2 linked regions of the Homo sapiens genome follow. The protein of the gene in region 2 interacts with the protein of the main gene of each other region in a pairwise test. Each region holds a gene or a part of one and is shown on either strand. Other genes may lie near its edges. The genes, in order: ZNF778 and CYB5R2.

Region 1 (12,438 bases), on a different chromosome or scaffold from region 2:
TCTGCAGGCAATTCTTTGTATTGCCTCATCGTTACTTCTGTTTCATTCCTAAAGGATATTTTGTTGGATATAGCAATCTGGGTTGGCATTTCTTTTTATTTCAGAACTTGAAAAATGCTCCTACATTTCCTGTTGGCCTCTATGGCTTCCGACGAGAAACCCGGTCAATTGAATTGTTCTTCTGGAAGCACTGTGTCCACTTTCTCAGCCTCCTTCCAAGACTTTCACTCTGTAGCTTTCGGCAGCTTCGTGGTGGCAGGGGCTTGGTTTTCTTTTCTTTCTTCTTTTTTGAGACAGAGTCTCGCTCTGTTGCCCAGGCTGGAGTGCAGTGGTGCAATCTCAGCTCACTGCATGCTCTGCCTCCCGGGTTCACGCCATTCTCCTGCCTCAGCCTCCCCAGTAGCTGGGACTGCAGTCGCCCGCCACCACGCCCAACTAAATTTTTGTATTTTTCTTTTTTTTTTTTTTTTTTACTAGAGACGAGGTTTCACTGTGTTGGCCAGGATGGTCATGATCTCCTGACCTTGTGATCCGCCCACCTCGGCCTCCCAAAGTGCTGGGATTACAGGTGTGAGCCACCGCCCCCGGCCTGGGCTTGGTTTTCTTTAGGTTTATCCTGTCTGGGGCTCATGGAACCTCTTCAAACTTAAGTTTTTATCTTACACCAAATATGAGAAATGTTTCATCATTATTTTTTCAAGTGGTTTTACTACATCACACTTTCTCCTTTTCTTCCAGGATACTGAGGTCATGAATGTTAGCCATTTGGTATCATAACACTGCTCCCCAAGGCTGTTGCACATATGCTGAATAATTTAAGATTATAGTCTACACTTCTGAATTTTAGGTTATGACACTCTGGGTCTGTCAGTCCCACGGGTGATGGAGATACTGGTTCATCAGGCGAGTAACCTAGTCAGGTTCAGGAGGCAAGTTCTATTGAAACCATGTGGGTCGTGCTTTCCATGTTGATTCTGTCTTAAAGCCTACGCAGAACTGCTCATGTCTCTTCTCGGGCGAGGCTCGTCCACCTACAGAGTGGTCAACCTCACAGGCCAGCTCCTAAGGCTGATGATGTGTTTGCTGCTGCAGGACTGCCTGGAGGCCAGGGCAAGCGAATGGGAAAAACTAAACTTTCGGATTTTTTCTCTCACAGTGTTAGGACACCTGTTTCCCACTCGTTGTGTGAAAACGGAAGTCAGCATGAGGCCCCGATCTGGAGCCTAGTGGGTGCTGGTGCCAAGCTTCTGGGACCCTCCAGGCCTTCAGAATTGTGAACAAAATAAACCTCTTTTCTTCATTAAAAAAAAGAGGCCTTGCAAAAATTTTTATGTCCATAGTGGGAAAAATGACATTACACTCTACAGATACGGTCAACAAAAATCAACTCCAAATGGATTAAGCAACTTGGGATAAAACATAGAAACTGTGGAAGCCAAAATAGTACAGCATATTTAAGGCCTTAGGAGAAAAGAAATTTCTGATGAAGATAAAGGAAAGGTTGTATAAATTTGAGTATGCCAAAATTAAGAAATATTTTTCCTTTTTTTTTGAGACAGAGTCTCACTCTGTTGCCAGGCTGGAGTGCAGTGGCGCGATCTCGGTTCACTGCAATCTGTGCTTCCCATCTTCAAGCAATTCTCCTGCCTCAGCCTCCCAAGGAGCTGGGATTACAGGCGTGCACCACCACATCTAGCCAATTTTTCTATTTTTAGTAGAGATGGCGTTTCACCATGTTGGCCAGGATGGTCTTGATCTCCTGACCTTGTGATCCACCCACCTCGGCCTCCCAAAGTGTTGGGATTACAGGCCTGAGCCACCACACCTGGCACAATCTTTTTCCTTAAGGCATCATCACAAAAGTGGAAACAGGTGAAGTGGAAACCACTGCAATCTTCTAAGTCACAAGTGGTGACTCACCTCACAACAGCCTCACTATTTCTAAAAAAGAACAAAGATCAAACAAACCAGGAAAAAACAAGACCAGGTACTTCATCCAAAAAGGAAAATAGCCAGCGTAAGCAAAACCATGTTCATACTATCAGTAATGAAGAGAAGTGCAAACCAACACCCCAAGGAGATGCTGTTTCACAACCACTTTGGAAAAAACGTCACTCCCTAAGAAGGTTGAACGAGTAGAGAGAAAGAATAAAACTGCCCAGGAGTCAACATGGCAGTTCCTACAGATAGTTCAAGAATCCCTGGGCTGGGTAAGACCTTGTCACAGACATGTGCTTAGGTAGAGAGACTATGAGGAAAACCACACCACTGGTGGGGCCTAGACGCGGACTCGTCAAGGTGAGTGAGTGACACACACAGGTTCCTGACATGGAAAGTTTATCACTCACAGTGTCAAGAGAAGGCGGCACATCACTCCAGGCAGGGCCCAAGGGGAGCTGCAGAGCTGGGCAGGAGGCAGAAGTCAGAGCCAGGGGAGGCAGAGGCCACAGGGTTTTCACAGGAAAGGCAGGACAGGGCAGGATGAAGTCTGGGGCTGGCTAGTCTGCATACTTCCAGCAGGCCCAAGGGCATACAGCATGTCCTGCTGTCTAGTGCCTCATCCTGGGCTGACTTCAGGGAGGAGAAATACTGGCTTGGTGTGGTAGTTAGAAAAAGGAAGTGGCCGGAAATAAGTACTTGCAACAGTTGAGTTGCATACGCAGTGCGAGCTGAGTTGCATACGCAGTGCGAGTTGAGTTGCATACGCAGTGCGAGTTGAGTTGCATATGCAGTGCGAGTTGAGTTGCATACGCAGTGAGTTGAGTTGCATATGCAGTAAGTTGATTTGCATACGCAGTGCGAGTTGAATTGCATATGCAGAGCGAGCTGAGTTGCATACAGTGTGAGTTGAGTTGCATATGCAGTATGAGTTGAGTTGCGTTGCATATGCAGTGCGAGCTGAGTTGCATATGCAGTGAGTTGATTTGCATACGCAGTGCGAGTTGAGTTGCATACACAGAGCAAGCTGAGTTGCATACGCAGTGTGAGTTGAGTTGCACACGCAGTGCGAGTTGAGTTGCACACGCAGTGCGAGTTGAGTTGCATACGCAGTGCGAGTTGAGTTGCATACGCAGTGCGAGTTGAGTTGCATACGCAGTGCGAGTTGCATACGCAGTGCGAGCTGAGTTGCATACGCAGAGCGAGCTGAGTTGCATACGCAGAGCGAGCTGAGTTGCATACGCAGTGCGAGCTGAGTTGCATACGCAGAGCGAGCTGAGTTGCATACGCAGAGCGAGCTGAGTTGCATACGCAGAGCGAGCTGAGTTGCATACGCAGTGCGAGCTGAGTTGCATACGCAGTGCGAGCTGAGTTGCATACGCAGAGCGAGCTGAGTTGCATACGCAGAGCGAGCTGACTTGCATACGCAGTGCGAGCTGAGTTGCATACGCAGTGCGAGCTGAGTTGCATACGCAGAGCGAGCTGAGTTGCATACGCAGTGCGACTTGAGTTGCATACGCAGAGCGAGCTGGGTTGCATACGCAGAGCGAGCTCAGTTGCATACGCAGAGCGAGCTGAGTTGCATAGGCAGTGAGTGGATTCGCATACGCAGTGCGAGTTGAGTTGCATACGCAGTGCGAGTTGAGTTGCATACGCAGTGCGAGTTGATTTGCATACACGGTGTGAGTTGAGTTGCATATACGGTGTGAGTTGAGTTGCATATGCAGTGAGTTGATGTGCATATGCAGTGAGTTGATTTGTATATGCAGTGCATGTTTCCAGCAAGTTGTTTACCATCTTTAGGAATGATCTAGCCTGAGAGGGACGGTCTAGCCCCCACAGCAAGACCCCAGGATGAAAATGTACCCTAACAAAAAAAAAAAAAACATAATTAATACAATTGGTCCTTTAATATTTTATCTTACTCTGAGGAACCCTCAGACATTGGGAGTGGAGATTTTCACACAGGAGGGCATAAGTTGCCCTAAGTGACACAGAACACGTTCTGAGAGTTAGGAAGAGAAATACAGGTATCTGCCTAACCAGTACTTGCAGTCCTGCCCATAACCCAGTTTTCCATCATGCTTGGTGTCTTAGTCTGTCTGTGTTGCTACATATCTGAGGCTGTGGGTAACTTAGAAAGAGGCTTATTTGGCTCATGGTTCAGCAGGCTGTGCAAGCATAGCACTGGCATCTGACCTGCTTCTGGTGAGGACTATTTGCTGTGTCAAACAGGGCAGAGAAGGTCAAGGGCAGTGAGCCAAACCCGAGGGACGGCTTGGCTTTATCACAACCATGCTCCCAGTAACTAGTGCATTCCCCTACAAACCAATCCAGGCTTGACACAGCAAGAATGAATGGTATCCAACCATTCAGGAGGGTGCCCCCATGACCCAAACCCCCACCAGGCCCCCTCCCAGCACTGCCACACTGAGGGTCAAAGCTCAACATGAGACTTGATGAGGGCAAACCAATCACATCCACATCACAGCATATGGTATTACTCAAGAAAATCACTTTGAAATGTTGGGGGTCCAATGATAATATCCTTGAGGAGTTATAAAGGTGATAAAGGGATGAGTTTGACAATTATCAGGATGGCAGGTCTGTAGTTCTGCTGCAGGAGGGTATGAAGCAAACAGTTAGTATGTGTAAAGAAGAGGCTCTGTGTGAAGCCAAGTCAAGGGAGTAAGGAGATGAGATGGAAAGCTGCAGCGGAGGAGAAGGCACTGGGGAGACAGTGGCCTTCCCAGAGGCTGATAGGAGGCGGGCACCTCCTGGTGAAACAAAACATTTTGGTATCAATTATTGAGACTTCACAGACACTACTAACTCCTACCAGATTTTCCTACAGGCAAGGGGTGCAGGGCTGTGGGTTTTGGTTGAGATTACACCAGGATCACGGGTTAGCGGACAGCAAGCTCAGCTCATCACAGAATCTCAAATATCAAATTTGTGCCTTAGGAACCCCAGTCCATGGGCATCGCTGCTGAGGAGGTTCTGAAGAAGTGCGTGAAGTCACCTCCAGTGAAGGGAGGGGGAGTCGTCGGAGGGGTAGTCGTCTTAATTGAGGTCTGTGCTGGGGTGATGTCTCCACCAACAGTGGGCATATCAGGCAGGGTGGTGTCTGGGCTACCGCCTGCTCAGGATGCTGTCACTAGGAGTCCGAGCACCAGGATGATGCAGTCCTGGCGTCACCTGTGACCCACAAGTTCTGGACTCAGGCAACTGTGAGTCAGTTCTAGCAGAGACCTGCAGGACTTATTTCAGCCAATCAGGATGTCACCTGAGACCAGTCCAGGAGCCGCTACAACCCCACAAGCTGGTTCCCGCTAATCTGATGACCTTTAGTGTCAATGCCAACAATTAAAGGTGGCAACAGATGAGCTAAATAGCCACACTCAATCCCACAAGAGAAACATGGCACAACCCACTCCTCTCCACAACAAACACGTAACATGAAGGTGCATGGCTCTGTCCATCCAGAATTTCAAACACGTGACATGAAGGTGCACAGGTCTGTCCATCCAGGATTTCAAACATGTGACAGGAAGGTGCACGGGTCTGTCCATCCAGAATTTTAAACACGTAACATGAAGGTGCATGGGTCTGTCCATCCAGAATTTCAAACACGTGACATGAAGGTGGACGGGTCTGTCCATCCAGGATTTCAAACACGTAATATGAAGGTGCACGGGTCTGTCCATCCAGGATTTATTGTTCACCTCGTTGTAGATTACCTTTATACCGTGGGGATTCAACACCACAGAAACAGTCACCAAGCAGCTGCTGCCCTGATGGCCACAAAAAACATAACCCAGGATTGCTGCAGCCAGAGGACACACATTCGTGTCACTCACATGAAGTCTTGCTCTGCCACTGTGTGTGTTTAAGGGCCTCATCCAAGAAGCGCCAGTGACAGGGCCAAGCGCCACAGAACATCAGGACCAGCCGTGTCCCTGGTCTGTTTTCATGGTACACAAAGGAGCAGCACACACACAAGCAGCAGCTGCCCCAGGAGTGCCGGGTCGCAGCAGCTGCCCCATGAATGCCGGATCACAGCAGCTGCCTCATCAGTGCCGGATCGCAGCAGCTGCCCCAGGAGTGCCAGATTGCAGCAGCTGCCAGGACCGCTCTGCATGCTGTGAAGAGGATCTGGAGGTCAACAAGGACACTCAGGGCTCTCACCCGTCCGGCACTGCCTAAGGTACAGGAATTCCCTCCTCCCCACGTGGGGGGTGGTGGTTCTCCCTCCACGGCCATGAAACGGGGGCATCTCAGGGTACAGACCTCGCCCCTCTCCACTCTGCCCCTCCTTGCACCCTGGTGTTTTATCTGAAGGGATCAGGTATGGGAGAGGAACAAGGGCATTTTCATAAAATGTAGAGCTGTGTTATGCCCCAACATTGGCCAGTGTGGGACCCTACAGGTGGGTCATGCCTAAGAGCATGACTAACCAACCAGAGCCTACGCTGCTCATACAGGATCCCATCTGGATACTTAAGACTAACCAACCAGAGCCTACACTGCTCACACAGGATCACATCTGGATCCTCAAGACTAACCAACCAGAGCCTACACTGCTCACAGAATCACATCTGGATCCTCAACACTAACCAACCAGAGCCTACGCTGCTCACACAGGATCACATCTGGATCCTCAAGACTAACCAACCAGAGCCTACGCTGCTCACACAGGATCACATCTGGATACCTAAGACTAACCAACCAGAGCCTACACTGCTCACAGAATCACATCTGGATCCTCAAGACTAACCAACCAGAGCCTACGCTGCTCACACAGGATCACATCTGGATCCTCAAGACTAACCAACCAGAGCCTACGCTGCTCACGCAGGATCACATCTGGATCCTCAAGACTAACCAAGCAGAGCCTACGCTGCTCACAGAATCACATCTGGATCCTCAAGACTAACCAACCAGAGCCTACGCTGCTCACAGAATCACATCTGGATCCTCAAGACTAACCAACCAGAGCCTATGCTGCTCACAGAATCACATCTGGATCCTCAAGACTAACCAACCAGAGCCTACGCTGCTCACACAGAATCACATCTGCATCCTCAAGACTAACCAACCAGAGCCTACACTGCTCACAGAATCACATCTGGATCCTCAAGACTAACCAACCAGAGCCTACAGTGCTCACACAAGATCACATCTGGATCCTGAAGACTAACCAACCAGAGCTTACACTGCTCACAGAATCACATCTGGATCCTCAAGACTAACCAACCAGAGCCTACGCTGCTCAAAGAATCACATCTGGATCCTCAAGACTAACCAACCAGAGCCTACACTGCTCACACAGGATCACATCTGAGTCCTCAAGGCCTACTGTTAGCCAGGCTGCGACGTGGACACTGTAGCAACCAGACTGGAGGATTTCTACAGGGAACAGAGTCCTCACTCCAAGAATGATCAGTGCAGCATCATAAAGATTCAAAATACGTCTACAGAACCCCCAGAAAGACATGTCTCAAGTTAGCCCACAAGGTTTTAGAACACAGGGAAGCGACTGCTATCTTCCATACATTCACAACACTTCAAGTGTCAATCACCACGTTTACTAAAGGGTGAGGAAAGATGTAATGTAAAAAATGACTTCCCAACAATTCTCACCCTCCTAAGGTTTTTCTTCATTGTGAGATCACAAGGGATCATCAAAGTACTGAGCAGAACAGCAACAATGCTGCTGCATATCACACATCAATAGAGTTCTCTCTACTGGATACCATCCATATTCAGCAAGACCTTAGAGAACACTGAGGGCTTTCTCTGTGTCTGCTGCATAGGGCTCCAGGGTGAGTTCCTGCCTGCCGGGTTGTGATGAGATGCTGATTGCCTAGCCACATTCCTCAAGTCATGGACATCTGGAGAACGAGAGGTCTTTCATGTCTTCAACGTGAATGAGTGTAGCTGACAGCTTCCCCACATTCTTTACATTAGAAAGGTTTCTCATCAGTGTGAATTTGAGTGTGATGGTTAAGGCATGAGGAATTCTTAAAAGATTTTCCACAGTCCTTACATACAAAAACCTGCTCTTCAGTGTAAGTTTTTAAATGTTCTTTTAGTAGATAAAACCTATTGTATGCTTTCCCACATTCCTTACATTTATAGGGTTTCTGCCCAGTGTGAATTCTTCCATGTTTATGCAGGTGAGAGGAGGCACGGAAGGCTTTCCCACACTCGTTACATATGTAAGGTTTCTCTCCTGTGTGAGTCCTTCTGTGTTCGATAAGGTGTGAGGAGGAAGCAAAGGCTTTCCCACACTCCTTACATATGTAGGGTTTCTCACCGGTGTGGGTTCTTATGTGCACGATAAGGTGTGAGGATGTGGTGAAGGCCTTTCCGCATACTTTACATTCATAAGGTTTCTCTCCAGTGTGAGTTCGTATGTGCTCGGTTAGGCTCGAAGAAACAGTGAATGTTTTCCCACAGTCCTTACATTCATAAGGTTTTATTCCAGTGTGAATCTGAATGTGCTTATTCAGGCACGAGGAATTTCTGAAGGATTTCCTGCATACCGTACATATAAAGGGCTTCTCCTCTGTGTGAGTTTTCACATGCTCATTCAGTAGATAAACCCTATTGTAGGCTTTCCCACAGTCCTTACATTCATAGGGCTTCTCCCCGGTGTGTGTCCGCATGTGTTTAGTGAGGCCTGAGCGCCCTGTGAAGGCTTTGCCACACTGCTTACATTCGTAGGGTTTCTCTCCGGTATGGATTCTCGCGTGCTCAGTCAGGCTTGAAGAAACAGTGAAGGATTTCCCACAATCTTTACATTCATATGGTTTCTCTCCAGTGTGAGTCCTTACATGCTCAGTAAGGCCCGAGGATGTACAGAAGGCTTTCCCGCAGTCCTTACACGTGTATGGCTTCTCGCCCGTGTGTGTTCGTACGTGTCTAGTAAGGCCACAGCGCACAGTGAAGGCCTTCCCACAGTAGCTGCATGTATAGGGTTTTATTCCAGTGTGAATTCGAACATGATTATTAAGGCATGAGGAATTTCTAAAATATTTTCCGCAAACCACACATGCAAAGGGCTTCTCCCTCGTGTGAGTTTTTCCATGCTCATTCAGTAGATAAAACCCACCGCAGGCTTTCCCACAGTCCTTACATTCATAGGGCTTCTGTCCAGGGTCTGTTTGGACGTGTTTAGAAAGACCTGAGAGTCCAGTGAAGGCTTTTCCGCATTCTTTACATTCACAGGGTTTCTCTGCAGCATGAATTCTTACATGTTGAGTTAGGCTGGAAGAAACAGGGGAGGCTTTTCCACATTCTTCCAATTCACAGGGCTTTTCCCCAGGGTGGACTTGCACGCGACCAGTAAGGTAGGCAGTGTACCTAAAGGCCTTCCCACATTCCCTACATACGTGGGGATTCCTGACGGCATGCATTTCAACAGGTGTGGCGCAGCCCATGGAGTGAGTTAGAGCTTTCCCACACGGCTTCCATTTCCATGTTTCTTCTCCGTTGTGACTTCCCGCACGTGCCTGAAGGTATGACTGATTAAGGAACACTTCCCCACAGCTGCTGTAGTCAAGAGATCTGTCCCGAGTGCATGCTTGCTGGGAAACAACATTTGGAGTAGAGCTGAAGGCTTTTCCACACTGACCCAACACGGAAAACTGCTCTCCAATTTTGAACAAGGTTTTCTGGCATGGAATAAAAAAGTCCCTTTCATAATGATTAGACACACAACTGTCTCCTGTATTTTGAGTTCTCACGTGTGTGCTGAGGCCTGAGTGTTCACTGAAAGCTTCTCCACACTGCGTGCGGTCACAGAGCTGCCCTCCATTGTGGCTTCTTGCCTGTTGGTGAAGAATGAGTGGTGGTCAGGGGGTTACTGAGGCTGATTCATAGATCTCACCCAGCTGAAGACAGAGCATGACGATGATGATTACGATTTTTGCCATTTTCATAACATGCAAGCAGCTCCTGCCCTGTAGATGTCTTTCAAGTCAAATGAGGAGCCCCACTGCAAGAATCCTGTGCCATCAGGACGGGCGCAGCAGCTCATGCCTGTAATCCCAGAACTTTGGGAGGCCGAGGCGGGCAGATCACCTGAGGTCGGGAGTTCAAGACCAGCCTGACCAACATGGAGAAACCCCGTCTCTATTAAAAATACAAAATTAACTGGGCATGGTGGCGCATGCCTGTAATCCCAGCTACTCAGGAGGCTGAGGCAGAAGAATGGCTTGAACCAGGGAGGCAGAGGTTGCGGCGAGCTAAGATTGCGCCGTTGCATTCCAGCCTGGGCAACAAGAGCAAAACTCCATGTCAAAAAAAAGAATCGGCCAGGCACAGTGGCTCACGCCTGTAATCCCAGTACTTTGGGAGGCTGAGGTGGGAGGATCACAAAGTCAAGAGATCGAGACCATCCTGGCCAACATGGTGAAACCCCGTCTCTACTAAAAATACACAAATTAGCTGGGCATGGTGGCACATGCCTCTAGTTCCAGCTACTTGGGAGGCTGAGGCAGGACAATCACTTGAATCCAGGAGGCGGAGGTTGCAGTGAGCCAAGATCGTGCCACTGCGCTCCAGCCTGGTGATGGAGTGAGACTTCATCTCAAAAAAAAAAAAAAGAATCCTGCACCATCTGCTCTAACTTCGAAAAGTCTGTGCGCACAAAACAGCTCTGCGATCTCAAGACCTCGTCATGTGTGCGCTGATGTGTGTCTGAAGCACCAAGTTTCAAGACAGGATGAGGTCCTCCCAAATTCCGCACATTCAGAGTGTTCTCTACAGACAACCCCTGCCTGAGTGAATCCTGCTTCTCTAAATTCTCTCAATTTTGCTCATTTTCTATAGTGGAATTCCCAATCTTTTATGAGTGTGATAAATAAAAAAATCTCTCTTGTTAATCTTACCGTCTGTGTCTCATTTGATGCTCTGAACCAAGATCTATCCTGCCGAAGTGCTGGCCCTTTGGTTTTAAGTCGCCATTCTGAAAAGAAAGAAGAATGACCTAAAAACGATCAAACTCATTGGTATTTGTTTTCATATAAGACATGGCAGAAAAAAAAACAAAGCAAAGATAGATTTAAGGAGTTTGGCTATGTGTAAAATTTGGAATCATAGGAACTGGGAGTCATAATTTAGAAGATTTTAAAATACATTTGGTCCATAAAGAAGAAATGTGAGGTGAACAGAAACAATATTATCAATGAAAGAAAGCAGGAAAGAGCTGGACAAAGGGCATACATTCAAAACACAAACTTGGCCAGGCGTGGCAGCACGCACCTGTAATCCCAGCTACTCAGGAGGCTGAGGCAGAAGAACTGAGTGAACCCAGGAGGCAGAGTTTGCAGTGAGCCAAGATTGTGCCACTGCACTCCAGCCTGGGCAACAGAGCAAGACTCCGTCTCAAAAAAAAAAAAAAAAAAAAAACCCACAAACTGAAAGAACAAAACAGCAGGTTTTTTATGAGATCACAAGAAAGGGAAAATCCAGATCAGATGGAAAATAAGGAATTACGGGAAGCTCAGGATACCCAGAGCCAACAGCCTCATGTTCTGTGCCAGAATGCATCTTAAAACGTGCACTCAGGATTCTTCCACAGCCGCTAAACTCGACACTCAGGATCCTCCCACAGCCGCTTAACTTGACACAATCCTTCCATAGCCGCTAAACTTGACACTCAGGATCCTCCCACAGCTGCTAAACTTGACATCGACCAGGCGTGCTCTTCACACTTACCTTGGAGAACTGCTCTCCGCCCTGCCCTCAACTCCTCTTCCTGCTCCAGCCAATAGATCACACTGGGTTGGAACAGGTGATGTCCTGTACACAGGGAAAGAGACATCGATGGAAGAGGCTCAGGCAGGGGATGACAAACCTACCCGTGAACAGGAACTACATTTCCTTTTTTTTATTATTTTTTGAGACAGCGTCTCGCGCTGTTGCCCAGGCTGGAGTGCAGTGGTGCAATCTCGGCTCACTGCAACGTCTGCCTCCTGGGTTCAAGTGATTCTCTTGCCTCAGCCTCCTAAGTAGCTGGGACTATAGGTGCCCGCCACCACGCCTGGCTAGTTTTTTGTATTTTTAGTAGAGATGGGGTTTCACCGTGTTGGTCAGAATGGTCTCAATCTCCTGACCTTGTGATCCGCCCACCCCGGCCTCTCAAAAGTGCTAGGATTACAGGCATGAGCCACTGCGTCTGGCGTCCCAGAGTGCTCGGATTACAGGCGTGAGCCACTGCGCCCAGCCTCCCAAAGTGCTGGGATTACAGGCATGAGCCACTGCGTCCAGCATCCCAGAGTGCTGGGATTACAGGCGTGGCCACCACACCCTGCCTCCCAGAGTGCTGGGATTACAGCCCTGAGCCACTGCGCCTGGCCTCCTAGAGTGCTGGGATTACAGCCCTGAGCCACTGCACCCAGCCTCCCAGAGTGCTCGGATTACAGCCCTGAGCCACTGCACCCAGCCTCCCAGAGTGCTCGGATTACAGCCCTAAGCCACTGCGCCTGGCCT
Region 2 (11,335 bases):
CTATTAAACCAGCCTTGCATCCCAGGGATGAAGCCCACTTGATCATGGTGAATAAGCTTTTTGATGTGCTGCTGGATTCGTTTTGCCAGTATTTTATTGAGGATTTTTGCATCAATGTTCATCAAGGATATTGGTCTAAAATTCTCTTTTTTTGTTGTGTCTCTGCCAGGTTTTGGTATCAGAATGATGCTGGCCTCATAAAATGAGTTAGGGAGGATTCCCTCTTTTTCTATTGATTGGAATAGTTTCAGAAGGAATGGTACCAGTTCCTCCTTGTACCTCTGGTAGAATTCGGCTGTGAATCCATCTGGTCCTGGACTCTTTTTGGTTGGTAAGCTATTGATTATTGCCACAATTTCAGATCCTGTTATTGGTGCATTCAGAGATTCAACTTCTTCCTGGTTTAGTGTTGGGAGAGTGTATGTGTCGAGGAATTTATCCATTTCTTCTAGATTTTCTAGTTTATTTGCGTAGAGGTGTTTGTAGTATGCTCTGATGGTAGTTTGTATTTCTGTGGGATCGGTGGTGATATCCCCTGTATCATTTTTTATTGTGTCTATTTGATTCTTCTCTCTTTTTTTCTTTATTAGTTTTGCTAGCAGTCTATCAATTTTGTTAATCCTTTCAAAAAACCAGCTCCTGGATTCATTAATTTTTTGAAGGGTTTTTTGTGTCTCTATTTCCTTCAGTTCTGCTCTGATTTTAGTTATTTCTTGCCTTCTGCTAGCTTTTGAATATGTTTGCTCTTGCTTTTCTAGTTCTTTTAATTGTGATGTCAGGGTGTCAATTTTGGATCTTTCCTGCTTTCTCTTGTGGGCATTTAGTGCTATAAATTTCCCTCTACACACTGCTTTGAATGTGTCCCAGAGATTCTGGTATGTTGTGTCTCTGTTCTCGTTGGTTTCAAAGAACATCTTTATTTCTGCCTTCATTTCGTTATGTTCCAAGTAGTCATTCAGGAGCAGGTTGTTCAGTTTCCATGCAGTCGGGTGGTTTTGAGTGAGATTCTTAATCCTGAGTTCTAGTTTGATTGCACTGTGGTCTGAGAGATAGTTTGTTATAATTTCTGTTCTTTTACATTTGCTGAGGAGAGCTTTACTTCCAACTATGTGGTCAATTTTGGAATAGGTGTGGTGTGGTGCTGAAAAATATGTATATTCTCTTGATTTGGGGTGGAGAGTTCTGTAGATGTCTATTAGGTCCACTTGGTGCAGAGCTGAGTTCAATTCCTGCGTATCCTTTGTTGACTTTGTCTCGTTTATCTGTCTAATGTTGACAGTGGGGTGTTAAAGTCTCCCATTATTAATGCGTGGGAGTCTAAGTCTCTTTGTAGGTCACTCAGGACTTGCTTTATGAATCTGGGTGCTCCTGTATTGGGTGCATATATATTTAGGATAGTTAGCTCCTCTTGTTGAATTGATCCCTTTACCATTATGTAATGGCCTTCTTTGTCTCTTTTGATCTTTGTTGGTTTAAAGTCTGTTTTATCAGAGACTAGGGTTGCAACCCCTGCCTTTTTTTGTTTTCCATTTGCTTGGTAGATCTTCCTCCATCCTTTTATTTTGAGCCTATGTGTGTCTCTGCACGTGAGATGGGTTTCCTGAATACAGCACACTGATGGGTCTTGACTCTTTATCCAGTTTGCCAGTCTGTGTCTTTTAATTGGAGCATTTAGTCCATTTACATTTAAAGTTAATATTGTTATGTGTGAATTTGATCCTGTCATTATGATGTTAGCTGGTTATTTTGCTCGTTAGTTGATGCAGTTTCTTCCTAGTCTTGATGGTCTTTACATTGTGGCATGATTTTGCAGCGACTGGTACCGGTTGTTCCTTTCCATGTTTAGCACTTCCTTCAGGAGCTCTTTTAGGGCAGGCCTAGTGGTGACAAAATCTCTCAGCATTTGCTTGTCTGTAAAGTGTTTTATTTCTCCTTCACTTATGAAGCTTAGTTTGGCTGGATGTGAAATTCTGGGTTGAAAATTCTTTTCTTTAAGAATGTTGAATATTGGCCCCCACTCTCTTCTGGCTTGTAGGGTTTCTGCTGAGAGATCCGCTGTTAGTCTGATGGGCTTCCCTTTGAGGGTAACCCGACCTTTCTCTCTGGCTGCCCTTAACATTTTTTCCTTCGTTTCAACTTTGGTGAATCTGACAATTATGTGTCTTGGAGTTGCTCTTCTCGAGGAGTATCTTTCTGGCGTTCTCTGTATTTCCTGAATCTGAACGTTGGCCTGCCTTGCTAGATTGGGGAAGTTCTCCTGGATAATATCCTGCAGAGTGTTCTCCAACTTGGTTCCATTCTCCCCATCACATTCAGGTCCACCAATCAGACATAGATTTGGTCTTTTCACATAGTCCCATATTTCTTGGAGGCTTTGTTCATTTCTTTTTATTCTTTTTTCTCTAAACTTCCCTTCTCGCTTCATTTCTTTTATTTCATCTTCCATCACTGATACCCTTTCTTCCAGTTGATCGCATCGGCTCCTGAGGCTTCTGCATTCTTCACGTAGTTCTCAAGCCTTGGTTTTCAGCTCCATCAGCTCCTTTAAGCACTTCTCTGTATTGGTTATTCTAGTTATACATTCTTCTAAATTTTTTTCAAAGTTTTCAACTTCTTTGCCTTTGGTTTGAATGTCCTCCCGTAGCTCAGAGTAATTTGATCGTCTGAAGCCTTCTTCTCTCAGCTCGTCAAAGTCATTCTCCATCCAGCTTTGTTCTGTTGTTGGTGAGGAGCTGCATTCCTTTGGAGGAGGAGAGGCGCTCTGCTTTTTAGAGTTTCCAGTTTTTCTGTTCTGTTTTTTCCCCATCTTTGTGGTTTTATCTACTTTTGGTCTTTGATGATGGTGATGTACAGATGGGTTTTTGGTGTGGATGTCCTTTCTGTTTGTTAGTTTTCCTTCTAACAGACAGGACCCTCAGCTGCAGGTCTGTTGGAATACCCTGCTGTGTGAGGTGTCGGTGTGCCCCTGCTGGGGGGTGCCTCCCAGTTAGGCTGCTCAGGGGTCAGTGGTCAGGGACCCACTTGAGGAGGCAGTCTGCCCGTTCTCAGATCTGCAGCTGCGAGCTGGGAGAACCACTGCTCTCTTCAAAGCTGTCAGACAGGGACATTTAAGTCTGTAGAAGTTACTTCTGTCTTTTTGTTTGTCTGTTCCCTGCCCCCAGAGGTGGAGCCTACAGAGGCAGGCAGGCCTCCTTGAGCTGTGGTGGGCTCCACCCAGTTCGAGCTTCCCGGCTGCTTTGTTTACCTAAGCAAGCCTGGGTAATGGCGGGCGCCCCTCCCCCAGCCTCGCTGCTGCCTTGCAGTTTGATCTCAGACTGCTGTGCTAGCAATCAGCGAGACTCCCTGGGCGTATGACCCTCCCAGCCAGGTGCGGGATATAATCTCATGGTGCGCCGTTTTTTAAGCCCGTCGGAAAAGCGCAGTATTCTGGTGGGAGTGACCCGATTTTCCAGGTGCGTCCGTCACCCCTTTCTTTGACTCGGAAAGGGAACTCCCTGACCCCTTGTGCTTCCCAAGTGAGGCAATGCCTTGCCCTGCTTCGGCTCGCACACGGTGCGCGCACCCACTGACCTACACCCACTGTCTGGCACTCCCTAGTGAGATGAACCCGGTACCTCAGATGGAAATGCAGAAATCACCGTCTTCTGCGTCGCTCACGCTGGGAGCTGTAGACCGGAGCTGTTCCTATTCGGCCGTCTTGGCTCCTCCCTTGCATGTTGTCATTCTTAATGGGGGTTTGGGGAAGGAGTCTGAATAGGTTCCATGGAAGAGATGACACTTGAATTTGGAAACATGAATCATATTTTCCCAGGTATGCCGGAGAGGAAGGGCATTCCAGGTAGACAGACTTGAAACAGCCCAGTACAACCTAGGGATTGCCAAAAGTTGGTAGGCTAGAGCAGGGTTTCCTGGCCTCTGTGCTGCTGTCACTTTGGGCTGCGTAATACTCTGTGATGGAAATACTCTGTGATGGAGGCTCTCCTGTGGGTTTTAAGATGTTTAGCAGCATCCTTGGTCTCTACCCTCTAAATGCTAATAGAGGGTAGATGCACCCCTTCTGTAGCTGACAACCAACATGTCTTTGGACTTTGTTATCTGTTCCCTGAGCAGCAAAATCACCCTCAGTTGAGAACCAGTAGGTGAGAGAATGGGGTCGGAGTTGGGGGCCCAGGGAAAGAAAAATCTGATAAAGTCGGCAGGAGCAAACCAAGAAGGGCCTTGGGAGCCAGGCCCTGGAGTGTGTCCTGGAGAGATGGGGGTGGCCAGAGTGGGGTCTCCCTTGAAAGCAGTGAAGGATCCCCAAGGAGACAGTGAACAGGGGGATGGGTGAGGTTGGCTGTCCCTCCCCCCCACCCCGACAGACCCTCGTTTGGGTTTCATGATACAAAGGATTTAAGGCAGTTTCTGGAACCTGACTTTGAAAGTTGAGAAGTTTCTGTGTGTAACCACTCCTACCATGACCCCTAGTGCCATGGAGAGATTCTTGAGAGTTGATGTGACCCCACTTGGAGTTTTTTAGGAACTGCCCCGACACTTGCCAGTTGTGACCCCCATGGGCATGCAGAAGCCAACTCACAGGCCAGGCCACGGCCTCCTGACTGCCTAGCACGTCCCCCACAGAGCCACACTTCATGGGCTGTCTGCTTTGTACTTGAGTTTATTTCACAAAACCACGGAGAAAGATACTGAAATGGAGCTCTTTCCAGCCTCCAAGCAAGGAGGCCCCAGCAGCCAGTCTCCAGCCCCTTGAGCCCTTTTTGTTAGGCCCACACCCAAAAGAGGAGAACCAGTGTGTGCGCGAAGGTACATGGCAAGGCACTTTTGAAAACATCCCAGTTTACCGTGGTGAAATTGAACTTACTCTGAAACAGATGAAAAGGGACATGCAAAATTGCTGAGCACGTGGAGGTGTTAGTAGGTGAAAATCATGTCCTGGGTATAACCCAGCTTCTCCAGGTTAGGGTGAGCCGCCGTCTGGATTAGTGGTGGCGGGCCACACACCAGGATGAGCGTGGACTTCGCTGGAGGAGGAAGGTGCTCCTTGATCATGTCGGCAGTAACGAAGCCTGAGCTGTACTTCCAGCCTGAAATGAAGGAGATGCAGGAGCAAGCTGAGCGATGCCAGGTGGAGTTCCTGATCCCAGGCCGCCTGCACACCCACCCTCAGCCAGGGAGGAGGTGACAAGCTGCTCTACAAAGGCTTAGAAGTCTGTACTACTGCTCCCTGCAAAAAGCCTCAGAACTAGTAAACAGCCCTCTGCAGCAATCACCCCAGGTCCCAGGCTCACTGCAGGGACCCTGAAGCCCTGCTGCTGTCTGTCAGCTGTCAGCATTGACGAGGAAGGAGAACACAACGAGGTATACCGAGGTGTGTGAATCAGTACAGCCAGCTGGAGTTGTCCGGCAGGGTGTGGCCTGGTGTTAGTGGAACTGCGCAGAATTGCTCAGTAGGGTAGCGCCCTCTGCCGACCAGGGACCTGTATGACAAGCAGGTACAGCCGGGAGCAGTGTGAGAGGCGCGCCTGTGGGGTGCTCTGTGCACAGTGGTTGCTGGGATGCTGTCTGGGCTGCAGCAGCTGTCTGGGGGCTCAGCATGTCCAGGTGAGGTGGGCGGTAAGGGGTGTGGTGGCCGTAAGCAGAAGGGTGAGTGGTGAAGGGGTCAGTGCCCATATTAGATGTGTATGTGATGGCTGTGTGGAATGGGTGGGTGTTCACAGTGGACAGGGGCAGTGTCCCTTTTGATGTTCAGTGCAGCGTGAGGTGCTGCTGATGTATTAGACACCTGCTCTCGATTGCCCTTAAAAGCAGGCCATCCCAAATCCTTTCTCCCTCAATTTCTCACATTTCCCATCTGGAGCCAGAGCCCCAGGCTTAACCCCCACATCTGGTCCTACAAAACTAAAACAAAACAAAGAGACAGAGACCAGTCCTCAAAGTGGTCAAGGGTTGGTGCTGACCCATGGTGAGTGAGGGCAATGGATGTCGTACCAATGGGAGGCCTGTCCAGGGTGTACCACAGGTTGAACTGGTCTGGGTGAGTCCTGGCAATTTCTTCAAGCTCTTTTCTGACCAAGATATCCTCCTCTGTCTAGAAAAGAAGCAACACTGAAAAAGCCCCTCCAGGGCCATCCTCTTGTTCCCTGGACTGACTACACCGGTCAGCATACTCCTGGCCAAAGCTGCCACCACTCCAGCTGGAGTGCTCGCTGCCAACTCCCACGGCAAACAAGAGTTCTGCTGCTGCTCCTGAAGCTCAAACCCTTTGTTTTGTGGATGAAGTTCCTCCATGTGGATGAAGAACCTCCATGGGATGTAGGTTCCCATGGAGCTGCAGTGACCGCCTCCAACTAGAAGGACCTTAGCCAAGCGCTGGCCAGGATGGCTTCACTCGGAGCTCCAGCCCTGCCTCCTACATCTACACTGAGCTCTAGCACAGCAAACCTAACTGGAACAAGCTCAGTGCAGGCCCAGGATCTTCTGGAAGAAATGTAATGGGCTCAGAAAGTCCTGTGATAGAACAGCACTGGATATGTGAAGGAGAGGAAAACAGTCTGGAGCCCCATTTGGGGGAAAGGGAACCAAAGCCAAAAATAACCTGTCACAGCCTCAAAGATAACTGCACAGAAGACCTGGATCTTAAAACTCCTCATGATTCTCATCCCAGTCATTCCACTTCTGGGATTCTGTTTTAGAAAATAATCTAAAAGTAATCAAGCGTAGGCACAATTATTCATCACCATATTATTTAGAACTGAAAACAGCCTGAATGTGGAAGTTAGTAAATTATAGTGCAACTTGATAAAAACTATGATGAAAATATTTATAAAGCATCTTAAAGAGAAGAAAATGCCTGTTGTGGTAATGCTGAGTGAAAAAAAAAAAGCATATATAAATTACAAATATATAACATATATAGAAAAAAGATTTAAAAAGTAAGTAAATATTTATATTCTGTATTTTCTGAAGTGTCCACTGAGGACATCTGTGATTTTACACTTAGCAAAAATACAGCAGTACATCTTAAGGAAAAAAGGAATGCTTAGTGCTTAGGGCTGGCTGAGGAGACACAAAAGAGTTAAATACATGCAAAAAGCAGGCCTGGACTCAGCTTCTCCAGCTGCCAGCAGCCCTGTTGATCCCACTAAGCCCTCCCACAGATGCAGGCACCCAAGCAGCATGAGCTCAGTCAATGCAGGAGAAATGAAAACAAGAGCCCAGCTCAGCAAACATTCCATCCTACCACTGCAAGCTCAGCAGGAACTGACCTGGTTGGCAAAGATGAGGGACATCCTGGTCCTGTCACTGGGGTCCTTGGTGATGTGGCGAATGAGCTGCAACATGGGTGTGATGCCTGGAACACAGTGAGCGAGCAGCCAGCTTTCTCCCTGTCTCTGAAGCCCACAGTCCCTGACCTGCAGCAAGCTTCATACCTTCCCCCAGCCCAAGTTATCCTTTTCTCACTTCTGTCCCCAAAACTCAAAGCAGGAAACAGCCCTTCATTTTGGTTTTCCTTTCTAATGCAACAGTAAGTCAGGTAGTCTTTCTCATTTTCATATGGCAAGATGGAAAGAACACTCTAAGTTCTTCAGTGTCCTCATTCATCAAACAATGACGGGTAAATGTGATCGTTTTAAGAATGCCTATTACAGTGCCTGGCACATTGTATGTCTCCTTCAAAGACTGCTCTCTTTCTTCAGGCAGTCATTTTCAAGGGATGGGGAGAGTCAGGCTTGAACTGGATCTAGGAGCCCCTGGGACAGCATGGGTGGGCCTGCCCAGCTTGCCCCCAAGCCTGACCTGAAAGGTCCCCACAAGGCTCCTGAGCAGCCACCATATTGGTTAGGGGAAGCAGGGTACACAGGGTCAGTTTCAAGACCTGTCACTGGTTCATCGTTCCCACCTTCTACAGCTGGAGGCGAAATCTCTCATGTTGTCCCTTAGAGGATCAAATGACTCCCAAGTCAGAATGGGTCTCGGGGCTCACTCTCTGGATGGAGCCCCTAGAAGCCTCTTACCTGTGCCCCCAGCAATCATTCCCAGGTGATCGGCCAGTGTTTTTTTAGGCTCACTCGTCTGGTCTGGTCTGATTCCAAGATTCCCTGGAAACACAGAGAATGCTTATGACCTCTGCAGTTCTTGCCTAAAGAGACTGCAAAAGATCACTGACATTCCTTAGGACTCCCAGGAGGCACGTCCAGCTAAGGGACTGTCTGCACCATTTTAAGCTGGAGAAGCAGGCCAGGGCAGTCTCCTCAGCTAGCCCTGGTGCTCCAGTGCACAAAGTGGGAATAGAGCCTGGGCTTGGTCGGGGAATCGCCGGGCCTTCTGTTCTGAGGAAAAAGAGGGGCAAGCTGAAGTTAACACAGAGACTCAAAGAGCATTCTCACTCACGGAGGTGAACCAGTGAGTAAACAATGGCTATGTGAGTAACCAAGGAGCATGGACTCCCTCCATCCATTTTTCAGTATTAGCAGGCACCATTTATGTATCAGGCATTGTGCTGGAGATTTTGATACAATGACGAGGAAACACCAAGTCATTCCCCTACCTTACAAAAGCTGACAACCTCATGAAGTGGGTGTGTGAATGTGTAACAAGTGTGATCATTATGCATTGTGTGTGAATGAATGAAGACTAAGGACAACCCCATGTGACTCAAATCTGAGGAGTGTACGAGAACAATGGAACCATTGCAGGAATCTTCCTCCCAGCTGGGAGCCCAAGTATTAACCCCTCCAGTACCTGGCCCATGGTAAAACAAGCGTCCCCTTGGCCCTCGAAAAAAGATGGTCTCCCCGATTTTCATGTTCTCCAAATACTGAGTCATCTTCCCACCTTCAGGATATTGGGGGTGTACATTTTTGAAGTAGATCTGAAAAGCAAGGCAGCACTGCTTTCACATTCCCAGACACAATGCCACAGCCACGTACAACTAGAAAATGCATTTACTGCTGGAAGCTTTGCAGAGAAAGTGTTCTCCTCTCTGAATTGTTGTACGCAATCCCTGAAGATGAAGCTGCCACAAGGTTAACTGTAGCTTCACTGCTGGAAAGCCCTGCCTAGGGCATATGTGCCCTCAGAGAAAAAGCACTGCCCCTCCACCCCACCACCCTCAGTAGGCTTGGAAGCACGAGCTAGCCAGATATGGTGGGCACTATTTACCTTTATAATTAGGTCCACAAAGCCTCTGTCATCATCACTGGAGACAGGGGTGTAAGCCCTGACCACCAATTCATTATCGATTTTTGCCAAGAGCTGGACATAGTTACCTATAGAAAAGGCATCAAGCACTGAGTCAAAGCATATTTAGCTTAAATAAGGCCCAGGAATAAAGGACTGAGCTTCAGTGAAGGGAGCAAATACTGGGGGCACAATGTTAAGAGGGGTGGGAAGAAGAGAGCAGGGAAGGAACCCAAATATGGGATGCCCGGATCCTAGGCCTGCCCTGCCTCCCTGTGCTACCCTAGGCAAGTCACTTCACCTCTCTGGGTTTTGGTCTCTTCATCTGTAAAATGGGGGTGATATGTCTGCCCACCTGTGATCTTAGTGTAACTGCTTTTTGGAGCAGGAAAAGATCATTAAAGTTGGAGAGTGAGTATTAAAAATTACAGAAAGGGGTCAGACATGGTAGCTCACGCCTGTAATCCCAGCCCAGAGGCGGGTGGATTGCTTGAGCTCAGGAGTTCGAGACCAGCCTGGGCAAGATGGCGAAACCCCATCTCTACAAAAAAATACAAAAAATTAGCCAGGTGTGGTGGTGCACACCCACAGTCTCAGCTACTTGGGAGGCTGAGGTGGGAGCATCACCTGAGCCCAGGAGGTCGAGGCTGCAGTGAGCTGAGACTGTGCCACTGCATTCCAGCCTGGACGACAGAATGAGACCCTGTCTCAAAAAAAAAAAAAAAATTAGAAAGGAATATTTGTCTATTCAAGAAAAATATGTGGCCTTCACAAACTCCTTTCTTCCTAAACTGGATGTATCACTGAGATCTGTGAATAAATTACAACTACTCCATCTGTATCCTGGTACTAGGCACAGAGCAGGCCTGGGCTCACAGATACTACAGGGCCCTAGGATTTGGGTACCCATGGAGCAAATGAAACAACAATATCATGTCTTCCTGGCCTATGGCCTTGTGAGGAGTAGCAGTGAAGTTTTTAACCATGTAACTCTGCCCTTCCTGGGTAGAATTCAATAAACCAGGTGTGGCCAGAGACCTATGGATCATGACTACATCCCACTGTCAGATGACACACTGGGCAGCTACGACCTGTTGGATCCAAAATGTGAGACTCAAATTACTAAGGCAATTAGTGGCAGGGACAGGAGTGCAATCAAGAGATACTAAGAGCTAGAGGCAAGAGAAAGTTTTGTAACCCTAACCCTTGACTAACTTCCTGTATGTATGTAGTCAGTTTACTCCCTCAGTTTCTACTCGCTCAGAAACTGAGTGGACTACATACGGGAAATTAGTCGAGACAAGGAAGATGGAACAGAGAGATGGATAGAAACCAAGACCTAAGGTGCAGGGAGGAGGAGGAGGCAGGAGGAGAAAAAAGCAGGCAGAGTAGGCACTAGAGGGGCTGGTCCCTGAAGCTGATTCAAGGGGATGAGCCAAGTCTTTGAGGTGCCAACACTCTGGGCTCAGAACAGGCTCAATGACTCTGGTCATGGTCCCTCTGGGCACCAGGGATAGCCAGGAGTAAGTGAGACACCTAGCTTCCTTCTGAGAACCTGAAACTGGAAACCTGGAAAGGCTCTTTCATATGCAGCCACCTAGGCCTGGCCTGAGGGTGTCCCCAGGGCAAATGGGGCTCCCTGGCTGGTCCTTCAAGCCCCATCTCTAACTTGCTTCACTTCCACTGGGCTGGGACGAAGCAGCGAACTCTGAGGCCTCATATTAGACTCTCCCAGAGGCCTCTACATTACCTTGTCCCACTAACTTTGCACGGCCTAGGCCAAGGCTGAGGAGATAGTGGGTCAAGGCAGTTTCTAAGCAATTCTCTATCTCAAAGTTTTTCATTCTTTTAGGCTTCCTGCCAACAGGACCTGCCTGACAGGCCGAGCAGGGAGCTGAGAGACGGCACGCACAACACTGAGCTCTCGTGCATAGAGATGGAGTGAGGGAACAGCAAGGAGGCTCAGGGGCCCAGCGAGCTGGCTAGAGTGTAATCTCACCACCTGATAGAGCTGAGGTCAAGGTTTTGGCCTGTGCATATAAGACAAATAGGCCACGGAGTAGGATCCACCAGGCAGGCAAGCAGCACTAGCAGATTATACAAAGCTGCTCTGAATCCCTGATTCTAGCAGTTTTCTACTGCACTAAGACTGACT

What was found.
Region 1: the proteins of CYB5R2 (region 2) and ZNF778 interact in binary tests that used the Homo sapiens proteins (3 or more experiments, as listed by UniProt).

The regions. Positions count from the first base shown.
Region 1 is NC_000016.10:89,224,029-89,236,466, reverse strand, and holds part of ZNF778 (zinc finger protein 778), read right to left. Parts: intron 11,749-12,438; coding exon 11,665-11,748; intron 10,913-11,664; coding exon 10,836-10,912; intron 9,774-10,835; coding exon 7,905-9,773; 3' UTR 1-7,904. UniProt on the Homo sapiens protein: May be involved in transcriptional regulation.
Region 2 is NC_000011.10:7,660,463-7,671,797, forward strand, and holds the end of CYB5R2 (NADH-cytochrome b5 reductase 2), read right to left. Parts: intron 9,270-11,335; coding exon 9,163-9,269; intron 8,873-9,162; coding exon 8,743-8,872; intron 8,100-8,742; coding exon 8,016-8,099; intron 7,352-8,015; coding exon 7,266-7,351; intron 6,843-7,265; exon of another isoform or gene 6,150-6,842; coding exon of another isoform or gene 6,093-6,149; intron 6,089-6,092; coding exon 5,989-6,088; coding exon of another isoform or gene 5,925-5,988; intron 5,478-5,924; coding exon of another isoform or gene 5,378-5,477; exon of another isoform or gene 5,365-5,377; intron 5,085-5,364; coding exon 4,912-5,084; 3' UTR 4,642-4,911; downstream 1-4,641. UniProt on the Homo sapiens protein: NADH-cytochrome b5 reductases are involved in desaturation and elongation of fatty acids, cholesterol biosynthesis, drug metabolism, and, in erythrocyte, methemoglobin reduction.